2 separate regions of the Homo sapiens genome follow, and region 2 is linked to region 1. Evidence: fine-mapped expression QTL. Tissue or cell type: whole blood. Region 1 holds a variant in brackets; the other region holds the start of a gene. All regions are shown on one strand. Distances are between the middles of the regions.

The links. PIP is the estimated chance that this variant, and not a neighbour inherited with it, causes the effect.
Region 2: it holds the start of BCR, and the variant in region 1 is fine-mapped to the expression of BCR in whole blood (TOPMed, PIP above 0.99).

The regions. Positions count from the first base shown.
Region 1 is chr22:23,286,354-23,294,353 of GRCh38, forward strand. It overlaps BCR (BCR activator of RhoGEF and GTPase), which reads left to right. Exons shown (of 23, transcript NM_004327.4): 11 at 806-925; 12 at 1,744-1,819; 13 at 3,164-3,268; 14 at 3,986-4,060; 15 at 6,188-6,285. LOC107985554 (a long non-coding RNA gene) reads right to left here and starts at 4,175. Exons shown (of 3, transcript XR_001755448.2): 1 at 3,861-4,175; 2 at 258-420. RefSeq lists an enhancer at 5,880-6,059. The variant G/A (reference allele first, on the strand shown) is at 3,793.
Region 2 is chr22:23,176,391-23,184,390 of GRCh38, forward strand. It overlaps BCR (BCR activator of RhoGEF and GTPase), which reads left to right and starts at 4,119. Exons shown (of 23, transcript NM_004327.4): 1 at 4,119-5,849. The coding sequence starts at 4,571. It also overlaps a transcript of RSPH14 not described here and the pseudogene BCRP8. RefSeq lists enhancers at 1-78, 3,039-3,849 and silencers at 466-565, 3,970-4,209, 4,280-4,549, 4,570-4,649.

The DNA.
Region 1 (8,000 bases):
GCAGCAGGACAGGAGGTCCTCAGCCCTTGCCCAGCTGCCCAGCCTGCTGTACCCAAACCCAGCACACTTAGGAACACAGGGAGCTTCAAGACTGGGGTGAACATTCTATTGTCATCCTTGTGGGACTGTGACCTCCAGGGTAGGGTGTCCCCACACAGAGTGGGAGCCAGTGCTCAGGGCAGCTGAGCCCTATTGACTGTTACTGTTGCATTCTCCATGTTCAGCTCTTTGGGGGATGGGATGGGGTGGGGCCCTACCTGGTGACAGGCAGCACAGTTTTCTCCTCCCCAGGGATAGTGGCTTCTAGAGTGAAACCCATGGCTCAGCATAGGAAGGGCCTTCCCATCCAGGTTCTGTTGACGGTCGTCTGGTCTTCTGCTGGCATCTCCACAAACATGCCCAGGGGCCCGATGCTGAAACCTAGTTGGATTAGGAAGAGGGTGAGGGACCCTGTAGGTCACAGCAGCCTCCTAGACATTGTCTGAATTTGGGAAAATGAAAGGCAGGGATGTTGGTAAAAGTTTCTTCTCTCCGCCCTTGTGAGAGGAAAGACTTAATTCCTCCAAAAAAGGTTTACTGAGCATGTCCTGCAGCTTATGCCATGCCTTGACCCTGTAAAAAAGCTGTTTCTGTCCTCCAGAGGCCACCAGCAACTGCGGTCTGGGGCCCTGGTCTGTGCTGAGTGGAGAGATGGGATTCTTGCCCTCTGCAGGCTGAATGCAGCTGGTGGTGGGGATGGATGGAATGGGAGTGGGTTGTGTGGAGCGCTGGAATGGGAAGGTGAGGCTGTGGCATCTCCCCACAGAGGGCGAACAAGGGCAGCAAGGCTACGGAGAGGCTGAAGAAGAAGCTGTCGGAGCAGGAGTCACTGCTGCTGCTTATGTCTCCCAGCATGGCCTTCAGGGTGCACAGCCGCAACGGCAAGGTGAGCGCCTGCTGTTCCGGCCCCTCCTGCTCTCCTGGCCTGGGATGGGCTCCTGGTTGCCTAATGGCAGTGCGTTTTCACTTGGATGCGCCCCACTCTGAGAGAGGCATGTCCGGCATGGTGCATGCAAGCACGCACATTCCTTTGTCTGGGGCTTTGGGCTGTAGCCCCCAGGTTGAGTGGCAGCTGGCTCAGCTCCCACAGCTGGGAGTGGACAGGGTCTCCAGGGAGGGTATAGGGCAGGGGAGCCTAGCAGGTTTGTGCAGATCTGGCCCTTGGTACAGGGATGCTGTCCTGGGGCCTTGAGGGCCAGAGACACACCTTCTGTCCTGAGTCTGGCTCCTGCTGCCATCTGTAACCTGGGCCTCTCCCTCCTGTCAATACATGTCTGTCAATGTCCAGAATGGCTTGTTTTCTAGCCTGACCAGGAGAGGCAGCTGGTGGGCTCTGCAGAAGCCTCACCTCTGGGCTAGTGTGGGGCTTGTGAATTGAATGCAGGAGGTCAGGTCTGGATCAACGTTCACCTCTGCAGATCCCACCTGGTTACCTCCATGTCCCTAAGCTGTGCCCCTCTGCCAGCATCACACCCTGACCCATGTAGTTCGGGTGAGAGATGGTGTGCCAGAGGTGCTGTGGCACCCAGCTGGCAGGAAGGGTAGGGAGTGCCGGAAGCGACATGCCAGGCCGTGAGCACACCTGGCCACTGGGCTCCAGCCGGCTGGAGATACGAGTTGTGTGCTCTAAGGTGCCCCGGGCCTACCAGGCATTTGCGTAGCCAGGGCGGAGATAACTGGGTGTGTTCTTCTTGCCCACCCTAGAGTTACACGTTCCTGATCTCCTCTGACTATGAGCGTGCAGAGTGGAGGGAGAACATCCGGGAGCAGCAGAAGAAGTGTGAGTATCCTCTGTCCTGAGAGGGGCTGGGCTTCAAACCATTAGGGCCAGGCTGGCAGCTCCTGTGGTTTTAAACCTTCTTTTTTATTTCGAGGGGTTTTATCCAAGTGAAGTGTTGCATGGAGGGCTAATTTAGAAAAGAAGTTGGCGACAGCCATCCCGATAGGCCCCCAGCCCTCTTGTTCCCCTGCCAGCCTATCCTGCCCCCATCACCTGGGCACTCATTTCCCCACTGCCCTGTGATCCCCTGTGAATCCCCCTTCCCCAGGCCCTTTCCAGATTCCACACCTGCCCCTACACACACCCCTGCCATCTCCCCCTAGTCTGCTGCCCATACACCGCACCCCCGGCCTGCCCCCTAGTCCTTTCTGGGACCCTGCCACCACCCCATTTTCTTGGCCTCCCCCATTTCTCCTCATCTACTCCCCGCCCCCTGGGCCTTCCCTGCCCCAGCAGGTGCTGATGCTAAAGGGGCCTTTGGCTGGGCCCACTTGGGCATTCACACTGTGCTGGCCCCACTGCCCTGTTCATATGGCCGGGGTTGCCCGCTCTCAGCTCAGGGGCGCTCCCTCCTGTCTGGGGCAGCCCCTTCCTTCTCTGGGCACTTCCCTCTGTCAGGGCGCTCCTTCCTTCGGGTCCTGCCTGGCAGTGTCGGTGGGGAAGGCAGACCCGGTTCCCTCCTTGGAGGTTTGGGATTCACCCTGAGCTGGGGCTCTGCATGCCTCTGGCCTGGCCTGACCTCCCGCGCCCTCAGGCTCATCATTCTCACCTATGCAGAGCCACCTCTCGGCCCCCAATGCCACCGTGGCCTGGGGGATCAAGGATCTCCGGGCAGCCCTGCCAGTGCTTGTGTCCCAGGGTTTCCTGTCATAACATAGGAGCCCCAGCCATTTCCAGAGTGGCAGCCTCTGTTCCCTGTTCAGCATTATGCCCAGAAATAAGCCCCTTTTCCTCACCTGGTGGAGAAACGGGGGCCTGTGTTAGCAGAGGACGGGCAGAGCCATGCTGCTGTCTGTATGGGGAGACCTCACAGGGAGGTGCTCCCAGTCCAGCCACTCATTCTCAGACCTGCCTTGTGGCTGTGCTTAGGTAGCGTGGGATGTGTGTGTTTGTAAGTCTCATGCTAAGACTCCTCCAGGCCTGGGCTCTCCAGGGCCACACCTCACTCTGCCGCCAGACCAGCACTGCACTTGAGAGCCAAGTGCCCTCTCCTGAGCCCCCAAGCCCTGGCACCAGTTCTTGCCGTGCCCCTTCCCCAGGGTGTGTGGTGGAGGTCCAGTGGGAGGGGCCAGAGGGCCAAGGAGCAGATTGACCAATTGGTGCACCTCTTTTCCAACCTCCCAGGTTTCAGAAGCTTCTCCCTGACATCCGTGGAGCTGCAGATGCTGACCAACTCGTGTGTGAAACTCCAGACTGTCCACAGCATTCCGCTGACCATCAATAAGGAAGGTGGGCCCCCCCGTTTCCGTGTACAGGGCACCTGCAGGGAGGGCAGGCAGCTAGCCTGAAGGCTGATCCCCCCTTCCTGTTAGCACTTTTGATGGGACTAGTGGACTTTGGTTCAGAAGGAAGAGCTATGCTTGTTAGGGCCTCTTGTCTCCTCCCAGGAGTGGACAAGGTGGGTTAGGAGCAGTTTCTCCCTGAGTGGCTGCTGCTGGGTGGTTGAGGAGATGCACGGCTTCTGTTCCTAGTCACAAGGCTGCAGCAGACGCTCCTCAGATGCTCTGTGCCTTGGATCTGGCCCCACTCCCGTCCTCCCAGCCCTCCTCTCCTCCAGCTACCTGCCAGCCGGCACTTTTGGTCAAGCTGTTTTGCATTCACTGTTGCACATATGCTCAGTCACACACACAGCATACGCTATGCACATGTGTCCACACACACCCCACCCACATCCCACATCACCCCGACCCCCTCTGCTGTCCTTGGAACCTTATTACACTTCGAGTCACTGGTTTGCCTGTATTGTGAAACCA[G/A]CTGGATCCTGAGATCCCCAAGACAGAAATCATGATGAGTATGTTTTTGGCCCATGACACTGGCTTACCTTGTGCCAGGCAGATGGCAGCCACACAGTGTCCACCGGATGGTTGATTTTGAAGCAGAGTTAGCTTGTCACCTGCCTCCCTTTCCCGGGACAACAGAAGCTGACCTCTTTGATCTCTTGCGCAGATGATGAGTCTCCGGGGCTCTATGGGTTTCTGAATGTCATCGTCCACTCAGCCACTGGATTTAAGCAGAGTTCAAGTAAGTACTGGTTTGGGGAGGAGGGTTGCAGCGGCCGAGCCAGGGTCTCCACCCAGGAAGGACTCATCGGGCAGGGTGTGGGGAAACAGGGAGGTTGTTCAGATGACCACGGGACACCTTTGACCCTGGCCGCTGTGGAGTGTTTGTGCTGGTTGATGCCTTCTGGGTGTGGAATTGTTTTTCCCGGAGTGGCCTCTGCCCTCTCCCCTAGCCTGTCTCAGATCCTGGGAGCTGGTGAGCTGCCCCCTGCAGGTGGATCGAGTAATTGCAGGGGTTTGGCAAGGACTTTGACAGACATCCCCAGGGGTGCCCGGGAGTGTGGGGTCCAAGCCAGGAGGGCTGTCAGCAGTGCACCTTCACCCCACAGCAGAGCAGATTTGGCTGCTCTGTCGAGCTGGATGGATACTACTTTTTTTTTCCTTTCCCTCTAAGTGGGGGTCTCCCCCAGCTACTGGAGCTGTCAGAACAGTGAAGGCTGGTAACACATGAGTTGCACTGTGTAAGTTTCTCGAGGCCGGGCGCAGTGGCTCATGCCTGTAATCCCAGCACTTTGGGAGGCTGAGGCAGGTGGATCGCTTGAGCTCAGGAGTTGGAGACCAGCCTGACCAACATGGTGAAACCCTGTGTCTACTAAAAATACAAAGATTAGCCGGGCTAGGCAGTGGGCACCTGTAATCACAACTGCTTGGGAGGCTGAGGGAAGAGAATCGCTTGAACCCAGGAGGCGGAGGTTGCAGTGAGCCGAGCTTGTGCCACTGCATTCCAGCCTGGGCGACAGAGCAAGACTCCGCCTCAAAAAAAAAAAAAAAAAGTTCCTAGAAACAGCAAAATGTGGAGACAGAAAGCTTACCAGGGATTGTTGGGGAATGGGGTTGGGAGAGAGGACTAACTGCAGATGAACCCAAGGGGGACTTTTTAGGTGAGAGCAGTGTCGTGAAAAGACTGTGGTGCTGTTTGCGCTCACATTTACATTTCCTAAAATTCTTTAAACCCTACACTTGGAATGGATGAATTACATGACATGCAGATTGCACCTTCATAACATAATCTTTCTCCTGGGCCCCTGTCTCTGGCTGCCTCATAAACGCTGGTGTTTCCCTCGTGGGCCTCCCTGCATCCCTGCATCTCCTCCCGGGTCCTGTCTGTGAGCAATACAGCGTGACACCCTACGCTGCCCCGTGGTCCCGGGCTTGTCTCTCCTTGCCTCCCTGTTACCTTTCTTTCTATCTCTTCCTTGCCCCGTGCACTCAACCTTGCATCCCCAAACCAAACCTATTATTCATGGACCCCAAACTTGTTCCTCTTATGTCCTGTCCCTTTGAGGGGCACCACCATCCACCCGCATGGCCAAGCCAGAAACCGTGGTCTGCTCTCCCTCCGTTAAATGCCATTCTCCATCAGTGAGGCTTCTTAGTCATCTCTGGCTGCCTGGCCAGGCCCTGGCTGTGGCCTCCTCCCTGGTCTTTGTAGCTCTGGATATCCCTGCAGAAAGGGTCCCCACTACCAGGCCTCTCCATCCCCAGTCTCAGGTAGTTTTTCTAAAATGCAAACCCCACCCTGCAACTTACCGCCCACAGCCCAGCCCACTCTTCTCCAGGCCTCGCCTCCCTCCCTTCCCCCTGCACCCCACGACTTCTCCAGCACTGAGCTGCTTCCTGTGCCCCACAGTGGCCTGGAGTCCCCTTTGCCTTAACTCTTTGCCCCATAGTACAGCGGGGTCTGCTCTGATTGTAGGGGCTTCCCACATCCCCCAGGATGGCTGCCCTCTGCTGTGGCATCACTGTGTAACAATGGCGTGTACACCTCTCTGTCCCCACCAGTGCAGGGCCCTTCTCATCGTAGGGGCTTTAGCTGGGGTTTGTGGATCGACTGAGTGAACGAATGTTGTGGGAAGTCCCGTTTCCCAGCCGCACCCAGGGAAATTCCACAGAGCGGGCAGGGGCATCGCATGAGGTGCTGGTGTTCACGCCAGACCACAATTAGGTGTTTAATTTTTAAAAAGAAAGTTACAACCTTTTTTTTTTATTTTTATTTTTTCTGATTCTGCAAATAACACCTGCTCTTACAGACCATGTGGGTGATGTGGAAAAGACCTGTGACCTTCTCCATGTCCACTTCTCCCCACAGATCTGTACTGCACCCTGGAGGTGGATTCCTTTGGGTATTTTGTGAATAAAGCAAAGACGCGCGTCTACAGGGACACAGCTGAGCCAAACTGGAACGAGGTGAGGAACTGATTCCACAAGGGCCCAGCCTGCCAGGTGGGGCACAGGATATTTTCCACTGGAGATAATCTAAACCTTCAGGGGCTCCCTGAGGGCTTCCCCCGAAGGCAGTGCTGCTGAATTCCAGGAATCTCCTGGGGGGCCAGTAGGTGACGTGTCCAAGAGATTTTATCTCCTTGTTCCTGAAAACCTTACCCATCCCTGTCATCACAAAGAAGCCACCTATTTTGCTGGAGAAGTGTTTGGAAAGAGACTTAAAAAGGCTTTTTGTCTGCCTTTGTTAGCGCTTATGTTTACTTGGTAGGTTTCCATAGTGTTTTTCCGCAGAAGTTGGAATGAGCTCCCGTGACCCTCTTGGCTTCCGGAAGCCTGGGGCTCTGCTGGTGGGGCTGGGACAGGGACTGTAGGGTCCTGCTTGCTTGTCTCGGGGTGTTGGGTTTGTATTGTGTGTCGCCGTGCCTTCCTCCACCTTGGAGAGCTGCTGTGTGAGTCACTTAGCCATTTGGCCCTGCACCTTCGGGAGTAGGGGAATGATTGCAGAGAGGCCCGTATTGACTAAGTCCCAGATCCATGAGAGGTGCCATTTCCCAGCTTCTGCAGCAGCTGTGACCTCGAAGGTCTCATTCTTGATGCTGCAGGTAGAGGCCAGCTGGGCCTGCAGAGAGCTGCCTCCCACCCCTGCTCCTGCGAAGGAGGAAGCCAAGAGCCCCCAGGCTGCTTGGTCTACACGGGTCACGAGGCTGGTGGATGGAGCAGTGGGGCTGGAACCCAGGTCTCCTTTCTCAGCATCCACTACTCTTTGATCATTTTAGACATGTTGCTTGAATAGTACAAGGGCACAAGGAGCTCAGTAAAATAACCTGGTCATTGTAGCTCTGGACATCCCTGCAGAAAGGGCTGAGTGGCAGCTGTGATGAGAGGGGGTATAAGAGCCACAGGGGATCCATCGAAGAAGCCTTTGCAGAGACCAAGAGTGCCACGACCCAGCAGAGACAACAAGAGAGGGTGCCAGGCAGTGTGCAAAAGGTTCAGGTGCCAGGCAGCCACGGAAGCTCCGGGGAGGCATGAAGACATGAGGGTTAGATTGTAGCAGGTCACGTCCACCACCCTCACTGTCCATGAAGATCTGGACTTGGGGACACTCACATGTTCCTGGCGCACACACACACCCACCCCCTCCCCTATTCAGGTTCAGAAATTCCTGCTGCTTGCTTCTTCCCGCACCCTCCTCCATTTCCCCGCCAAGAAGCCATGCGCGCACACGCCTCGGTGTGAAGCGCAGATTCACCAACAGCACCGTCAGGGTGATGGAGGAGAGAGTTAACACCACGCACCCACGGCAGACAACTGGAGAGCTCGGGGAGCAGTTTTTCCTCCAAGTCCCTCTCCCTCCTGTATCAACCCCAAGGATCACTCTTTTGTTTCCTTTTAGATATAATTCATTTTTTAAAGAGCGGTTTTAGGTTTGCAGCAAAATGGAGCAGAAAGAACAGAGTTCCCATGTACCTCCTGCCCCCCATCTCAATTATGGACATCCCACTCCAGGGTGGGACATGAGTTACAGTTGATGAGCCTGCATTAACCCATCATTACCACCCAGAGTTCATAGTTGATGTTAGGTAGGGTTCATTCTTGGTGTTACACATGTTATGTGTTCTGACAAACGTGGAATGACGTGTATCCACCATAATAATATCTTACAGAATAGTCTCACC
Region 2 (8,000 bases), 110 kb before region 1:
TGCTTGATACACCGCTTCCTTTCAATCCCCACATCCTCACCACCTGTTTCTTTGTTTGATCACCAATAAATAGCATAGGCTCCTAGGGCTAGAGGCCTTTGCAGCCTCTATACTAGCGTTGGCCCCCTGGTCCCACTTTCTCTCTTGCCTTTTCTCACTCCTTTGACTCCGCCAGACTTTGTCGCCCCCACGGCCTGGTGTTGGGTCTGATCACCCCAACATCCCTCATTCCCCACACCCACTCCATCTACAAGTCCCATGAGTTTTACTTCCAGAATGCTCCTGAATTCTAACCCCTTCTCTGGGGTACCTTGCTTCTGCCCTATTCTGGGTCACCAATGCCTTCCTCATAAACAATTGCCACAATCCCCAACCACTCCCCCTACTCCCACCTCCCACGCCCAACCTTCCATGCAACAGACCCCAGCAAGTCACCCCGCTTCCTGTGCGGTTGAGTACAGCAGCCACGGTGGCCATTGAAACTCACTAACACGAAACCAAACATTCAGTTCTTCAGCTGCCCCAGCCACGTTTCAGATGCTCAGTAATCACACGGGGCAGCTCGTGGCTGCCACATTGTGCAGCACAGATTACAGAACATGCCCATGGTACTGGCAAGTTCTATCGGACAGTGCAGGTCTAGAACCTTTGAGCAGCTTTTCCTTGCATTTAGAATAAAACCCAAACTTTGTGCAGGCCTACAAGGCCCTGCCTCACCTCTGATCCCACTTCCTACTGCCTACACCAGCCTCATCTCCCAACCTGGCTGCTCCTCAAACAGAACTTTGAAGCCTCCTTGTCCTTTGCCTACCTGGTCCTTGTCCTTAGGACCAGCTCAGGCATCACCTCCCCTGGCAAGCCTTTCCCCGAACTGTGCCTTCTCCCACAGGACACACACACCTTTGCTATAGCCGGGCTGTGAATGCCTTATCACTTCCTCCCCCATACACAGGCATCGCTCTCGGTGACCTATCTGCCCTCCAGGCCATGCACACATCTGGTTCCTCATTCCACCAGACCTGGTTGAGCACTTACTCTGAGCTCACTATATGAGAGACATAGGGGAACAAGACAAACAGGTCTGTGACCTTGCAGAGTTTAGATCTAGTTGGAACAGACACTGAGTGGGGGATTACAGAGTGTTATGTGTGTCTAAACCCCATGCCCATGCCCATGCCCTGCTGCATTCCTCCCTAGGGAGGGATGGATGATAAGAAAACTCTACAGGAAAGGCCCAGAGGCTCAGGATAGGGGTGCTTTCAGGGAAGTCCTGAGGAGAGAACAGTGTCCTTGGGGCCAGAAGAGGCTGTCCCACAAGGGAGAAAGCCACTATCTGGACGTGTCCTTGTGCCTAACAAAAAGCCATTTGCTATGCCAAGAGAACAGAGCATGCAAACTCAAACTAAACAGCTTCAGAGTTTACTTAGAGACAGGGTCTTGCTCTGTTACCCAGGCTGGAGTGCAGTGGCGTGATCCTAGCTCACTGAAGCCTCAAATTCCCAGGCTCAGTGCAATCCTCCCACCCCAGCCTCCTGAGCAGGTAGAACTACAGGCACGAGGCACCATGCCAGGCTAATTTTTAAATTTTTTTGTAGAGATGGAGTCTCACTATGTTGCCCAGGCTGGTCTTGAACTCCTGGGCTCAAGCGATACTCCTGCCTCGGCCTCCCAAAACACCAGGATTACAGGCATGGGCCACTGTGCCTGCCTTTATCATACCCATTTTAAAGAAGAGGCCATTGAGGGCTGGGTGCAGTGGCTCACACCTGTAATTCCAGCACTACAGGAGGCCAAGGCGGGCAGATCACGAGGTCAGGAGTTCAAGACCAGCCTGGCCAACACAGTGAAACCCCGTCTCTACTAAAAATACAAAAAACTAGCTGGGCGTGATGGCAGGCGCCTGTAATTCCAGCTACTTGGGAGGCTGAGGCAGCAGAATCACTTGAACCCAGGAGGCAGAGGTTGCGGTGAGCAGAGATCACTCCACTGCACTCCAGCCTGGGCAACAGTGTGAGACTCCGTCTCAAAAAAAAAAAAAAATAGGCCACTGAGGATGAGAGCACTGCTCAGTATGGCACTACTGGGATTCCAGCCCCTTTAGTGGCCAGGGCATCATTTGCATCTCAGTTTCCTCACATGCAAAATGGGCTATTTGCAGCCTGATGGGAAGGGGATGAGAAGGTCCGCTGGGTCCAAGGGACCAGGATGGCAGGAGGTTAGCAAGGCCTGCAGAGGGCAGCAGTGAGCTGCGCACCGCCCACCCAGCCTAGAAACTGGGGCCCATGGGTTTTCCAGGGCAGGAATGTTCTCCAGGGGCACTAATATTAACAGGCAATCACGAAATCGACCCCTACACACCATTTATCAGGTTGTGTTTTATGTTTGCCCCATCTGGGCATTTTATGCAGGATGCTCTCAACATTTTGTACCGTGGCCCACAGGACTGGGTGGAAGACAGGACAGCTCAGAGCAGGGAGTGAAACAAAATCTTTGATGGTTCTCTAGGGAAGCCTGGAAATCTGAGACAGGGCAAAGAGCAGGGAGTCTGATGAGCACAAAATTAAAATACCCAAACCAGCCTGCCGGGTCAGGGGAAAAGGAAGCAGGATTGGGCACATGAAGAACAGATGACAAAACTGAGGCTCAGAGAGGCTGAGAGAGACACTGCTGAGGTCACACAGCCAGGAGTCGGCAGGAAGCCCTGAACCCAAGCAGGGCTGGCCTGGCTACTAGCCTGGGCTCAGTCCTTTAGATTGGACTTCAAAGTATCTGCTCCAGATGACGCTGGCATTGGGAGGAGGGCATGATAATCCCTAACATCCACACAGGGACAACAGCACTTGGAGGCAGATGTGCTTCTCACTTCAAGGAAACTGAGGCAGAGAGGGAGAGGTGGTCAGGACTCAAGCCCAGTAATTCATTTGCCAAATCCTGTTTCCTTTTCCCCCAACCCAGCGGGCTGGTTTGGGTATTTTCAGTTTGTGCCCATCAGAGTCCCTGCAGAGTGCTCTCCACTGTGTCTCAGATCTCTGTGTCCCCAGAGAACCATCAAAGGTTTTGTTTCACTCCCTGCTCTGGGCTGTCTTCCACCCAGCCCTGTGAACCTCAGTGCAGGTTGGCCGCCCCCTTAGAGGGAGGCTAATCAGGGAAGTTCTGAGTCAGGTCGTCCTGGAAAAACTACATTGACCTCTGGAGCTCAAGAGAGGCCAGGGGACAAACACATGGCTCAGCACACAGGAAGGCAGGTGTGGGTATTGAGTGACCTGAGGGAGAAATCCCTATTTATCATCCATCATGTGGTCCTGCTGTGACAAACCCGTGTGGCAGCCACCCACAGCAGATCCACAACGTGAGAGGCCCGCTGAAACAAGGGTGCTGGCATTGGTTACTCAGCCTGGCCCTCCCTGCCTTGCGGGGTGACCTGCCTGGTCCTGGCCTCTCTGTGAGTTGGGCCCTGCTGGGTGGTCCCTAGTGTGCCCAGCCCTGAGGCTGGTGAGAGGCCAGGCTGTGAGGTGTGAGGAACTTACCTGCGTCTCCATGGAAGGTGCCCTCCGCATCGTTGGGCCAGATCTGCCTGGTCTTGCAGATGCCCACGATGGTGGCCTCTGACACGACGACTGGGCAGTGCCGGTGACGCTTATGGCACTGCGGCGTGGTAGGGGCAGAGGGGGGAGGTTGCTTCTGTCGGAGGACTGCTGCGAGTTCTGCCAGAGAGAGCAGCTCTTGTCCCGGAACATGAGGTAGGTGGTGGGGCTTGGGGACACGCGGCTGGACTGGCCGGAGAAGTCCTCCTGGCCGGAGGGGAGCCAAGTGTTCCTGTTCCAGGACTGCAGAACTGGCCCAGACCTCTGTATTGGAAAGGTCTTTATGGACCAGGGAGTCCGGTGTCTTTTTTACGGGGGACCCCTGGGCTGCGAGTTGCACAGTCCAATTCGCTGTTGTTAGGGCCTCAGTTTCCCAAAAGGCACAGGGACGGGGGGAGGGTGGCGGCTCGATGGGGGAGCCGCCTCCAGGGGGCCCCCCCGCCCTGTGCCCACGGCGCGGCCCCTTTAAGAGGCCCGCCTGGCTCCGTCATCCGCGCCGCGGCCACCTCCCCCCGGCCCTCCCCTTCCTGCGGCGCAGAGTGCGGGCCGGGCGGGAGTGCGGCGAGAGCCGGCTGGCTGAGCTTAGCGTCCGAGGAGGCGGCGGCGGCGGCGGCGGCACGGCGGCGGCGGGGCTGTGGGGCGGTGCGGAAGCGAGAGGCGAGGAGCGCGCGGGCCGTGGCCAGAGTCTGGCGGCGGCCTGGCGGAGCGGAGAGCAGCGCCCGCGCCTCGCCGTGCGGAGGAGCCCCGCACACAATAGCGGCGCGCGCAGCCCGCGCCCTTCCCCCCGGCGCGCCCCGCCCCGCGCGCCGAGCGCCCCGCTCCGCCTCACCTGCCACCAGGGAGTGGGCGGGCATTGTTCGCCGCCGCCGCCGCCGCGCGGGCCATGGGGGCCGCCCGGCGCCCGGGGCCGGGCTGGCGAGGCGCCGCGCCGCCGCTGAGACGGGCCCCGCGCGCAGCCCGGCGGCGCAGGTAAGGCCGGCCGCGCCATGGTGGACCCGGTGGGCTTCGCGGAGGCGTGGAAGGCGCAGTTCCCGGACTCAGAGCCCCCGCGCATGGAGCTGCGCTCAGTGGGCGACATCGAGCAGGAGCTGGAGCGCTGCAAGGCCTCCATTCGGCGCCTGGAGCAGGAGGTGAACCAGGAGCGCTTCCGCATGATCTACCTGCAGACGTTGCTGGCCAAGGAAAAGAAGAGCTATGACCGGCAGCGATGGGGCTTCCGGCGCGCGGCGCAGGCCCCCGACGGCGCCTCCGAGCCCCGAGCGTCCGCGTCGCGCCCGCAGCCAGCGCCCGCCGACGGAGCCGACCCGCCGCCCGCCGAGGAGCCCGAGGCCCGGCCCGACGGCGAGGGTTCTCCGGGTAAGGCCAGGCCCGGGACCGCCCGCAGGCCCGGGGCAGCCGCGTCGGGGGAACGGGACGACCGGGGACCCCCCGCCAGCGTGGCGGCGCTCAGGTCCAACTTCGAGCGGATCCGCAAGGGCCATGGCCAGCCCGGGGCGGACGCCGAGAAGCCCTTCTACGTGAACGTCGAGTTTCACCACGAGCGCGGCCTGGTGAAGGTCAACGACAAAGAGGTGTCGGACCGCATCAGCTCCCTGGGCAGCCAGGCCATGCAGATGGAGCGCAAAAAGTCCCAGCACGGCGCGGGCTCGAGCGTGGGGGATGCATCCAGGCCCCCTTACCGGGGACGCTCCTCGGAGAGCAGCTGCGGCGTCGACGGCGACTACGAGGACGCCGAGTTGAACCCCCGCTTCCTGAAGGACAACCTGATCGACGCCAATGGCGGTAGCAGGCCCCCTTGGCCGCCCCTGGAGTACCAGCCCTACCAGAGCATCTACGTCGGGGGCATGATGGAAGGGGAGGGCAAGGGCCCGCTCCTGCGCAGCCAGAGCACCTCTGAGCAGGAGAAGCGCCTTACCTGGCCCCGCAGGTCCTACTCCCCCCGGAGTTTTGAGGATTGCGGAGGCGGCTATACCCCGGACTGCAGCTCCAATGAGAACCTCACCTCCAGCGAGGAGGACTTCTCCTCTGGCCAGTCCAGCCGCGTGTCCCCAAGCCCCACCACCTACCGCATGTTCCGGGACAAAAGCCGCTCTCCCTCGCAGAACTCGCAACAGTCCTTCGACAGCAGCAGTCCCCCCACGCCGCAGTGCCATAAGCGGCACCGGCACTGCCCGGTTGTCGTGTCCGAGGCCACCATCGTGGGCGTCCGCAAGACCGGGCAGATCTGGCCCAACGATGGCGAGGGCGCCTTCCATGGAGACGCAGGTGAGTTCCTCACGCCACGTGCGTGGGCACACCTGCACGGGGGAGGAAAACCATAGACGAGTAGGGGATACAAAACAGAAGTTGGGAGGGAGGAGTGGATAGTTTTGAGTGTATCAGGTGCACTTGTGGTTCACGCGGATCCTGCACCCGAACAAACTCCATCCCCTCCTCCTTCCTGAATGCATACTGTTAGTGTTTGGAATGGAATTGGGTTGAGGATGGTCTTGTGAGGGATGGGAGGTGGTTTGTTCCTTTGGTTCTAGAGCAATGTGTTTGTGAAGTACAGCTTGTGAGTTGAAGGAAGATGCTTCAGGCAGTAACCTCCTTGCTATGTGCTCTCTCCATGCCGGGCAGTGAGGATGGCATAAAAGCCGGAGTCATCTCTAGCGCCCACATCGGATGCTGTTAGCAGGGACTGATTTATGTCTTGGGCATTCCCCGCCACCCCACTGATCCTGTTCTGGAGGGGTTATATGACACGTTTGTGAAACCTGAGATATGCTAGCTGCTCCTAGGCCATAGAAGTGTCAGGTTTGCTTGCTAACCAGCAGTCCTGAACACAAGTCACAGCAGGTGAGAATAGGAATTAGAAGGAAGTGAGGCGACAGGCAGTTGTGACTCAGTGGGCCACCGAAAATCAACTGCATGGAGATTTTATCTGGGGGTGAAGCAGAGCCACACCCGTTCTGATCTGCCTGGCTTTGATGGGAGGCTTCACCCATGATTATTCACCACCAGGCTCCTCCATGGTGGTAACCCAGCCCCATTTGCTGACCCTCCAGTGTGCTCCTGCTGCCTCATCTTGCCAAGGATAAGCACCCACAGGTGCTTATTTGGGGCTCCCAATCTGTGGTCAGATTCTAGCACTAAGATTAAAACTATGGGATTGTACGCCTAACTTCTGTGCTAGATGCAAATACCATCAGGCATTTTGGGTCATGGGACTATGTTTTGAGATCCAGACACAGTTTGCCATTGGGGTAAGGAAAGGGTGGGCTGGGGTGTGTGTGTGAGGCTGTCGGGAATCTTTTGGAGTCCTGGTCCCTGTTAAGCTCATCTGGTTTTCTGCTTCATTGATTTTTCTTTTTCTGCTGATGGAGGAGTTGAATGTGCTTGGTTTGTCAAAATCCTCTTCAAACGAGTGAGGCTATTTTTGGCTCTTAGAGCTGCTGCCTTTTTGTGGTGGGCACTCTGTCCTGTTTGTGTTAGGTACTTCCAGTTACTGATCTTCCATTTGCAGCTGGGGTTTCCTGTGGTGCACGGCTCCGACCTGCCGTCTGGCCGGGCTGCATTCCCTAAGTCCCTATGTGGGGGCGGGGTGGAAGGCTGTACTATTCAGAAGCCTGCTTTGCAGGCACATCAGCTCGTTCGGGGTCTGGAGGATTGCCTTGTGGTTACTGGGCACCAGCCTTGTCTGGCCAGCTGTTGGTCAGGCGAGCCAGCTTGAACTGGCCCTCAGTGCCATGGTGCAGGAGAGTTATTAATAAAGAAGAAAATGAGAGGTTTTTAGGGAGATGTGCAAATTGAAATTGATAGTCTTTGCTGGTGGAGAATTCTGGGTTTCCAGAACCTTGGGCCCAGCCTTTCCTACAGCTCCTGTAGACTTGGCCATGTTGGCCACATCACTAGACGCCGAATGCAAGTCAGTAAATGAATATAGGAATTATTATAGAGGGATGGAAAGCCCAGTGCCTTGAGTCAGACAGGGCAGGTCCTCAGGAAATGGCTGAGGAGGTAATTTTACCACTTGGACCCACTTTTAGGACTTGCTGGATTCTTCTCCGAATGTCCTCAAGGTCCCACAGTCTCTTTCCCATTAGGTTTTATTTTTTCCCCCTTAAATGTTTTGTTTGTTTTTTGTTTTTAAGAGACAGCGTCTGGCTCTGCCATCCAGGTTGGAATGCAGTAGTATGATCATAGCTCACTGCAACCTCAAAACTCTTGGGCTCAGGTGATCCACCACAGCCTTTTCAGCAGCTGGGACTGCAGGCTCAAACCACTATACTGGGCTAATTTTTAATTTTTTTTTTTTGTAAATACAGGGTCTTGCTGTGTTGCCCAGGCTGGTATCAAACTCCTGGGCTCAAGCATTCCTCTAGCTTCAGCCTCCTGAGTAGCTGGGGTTACAGGGATGAGACACCTCACCAGGCC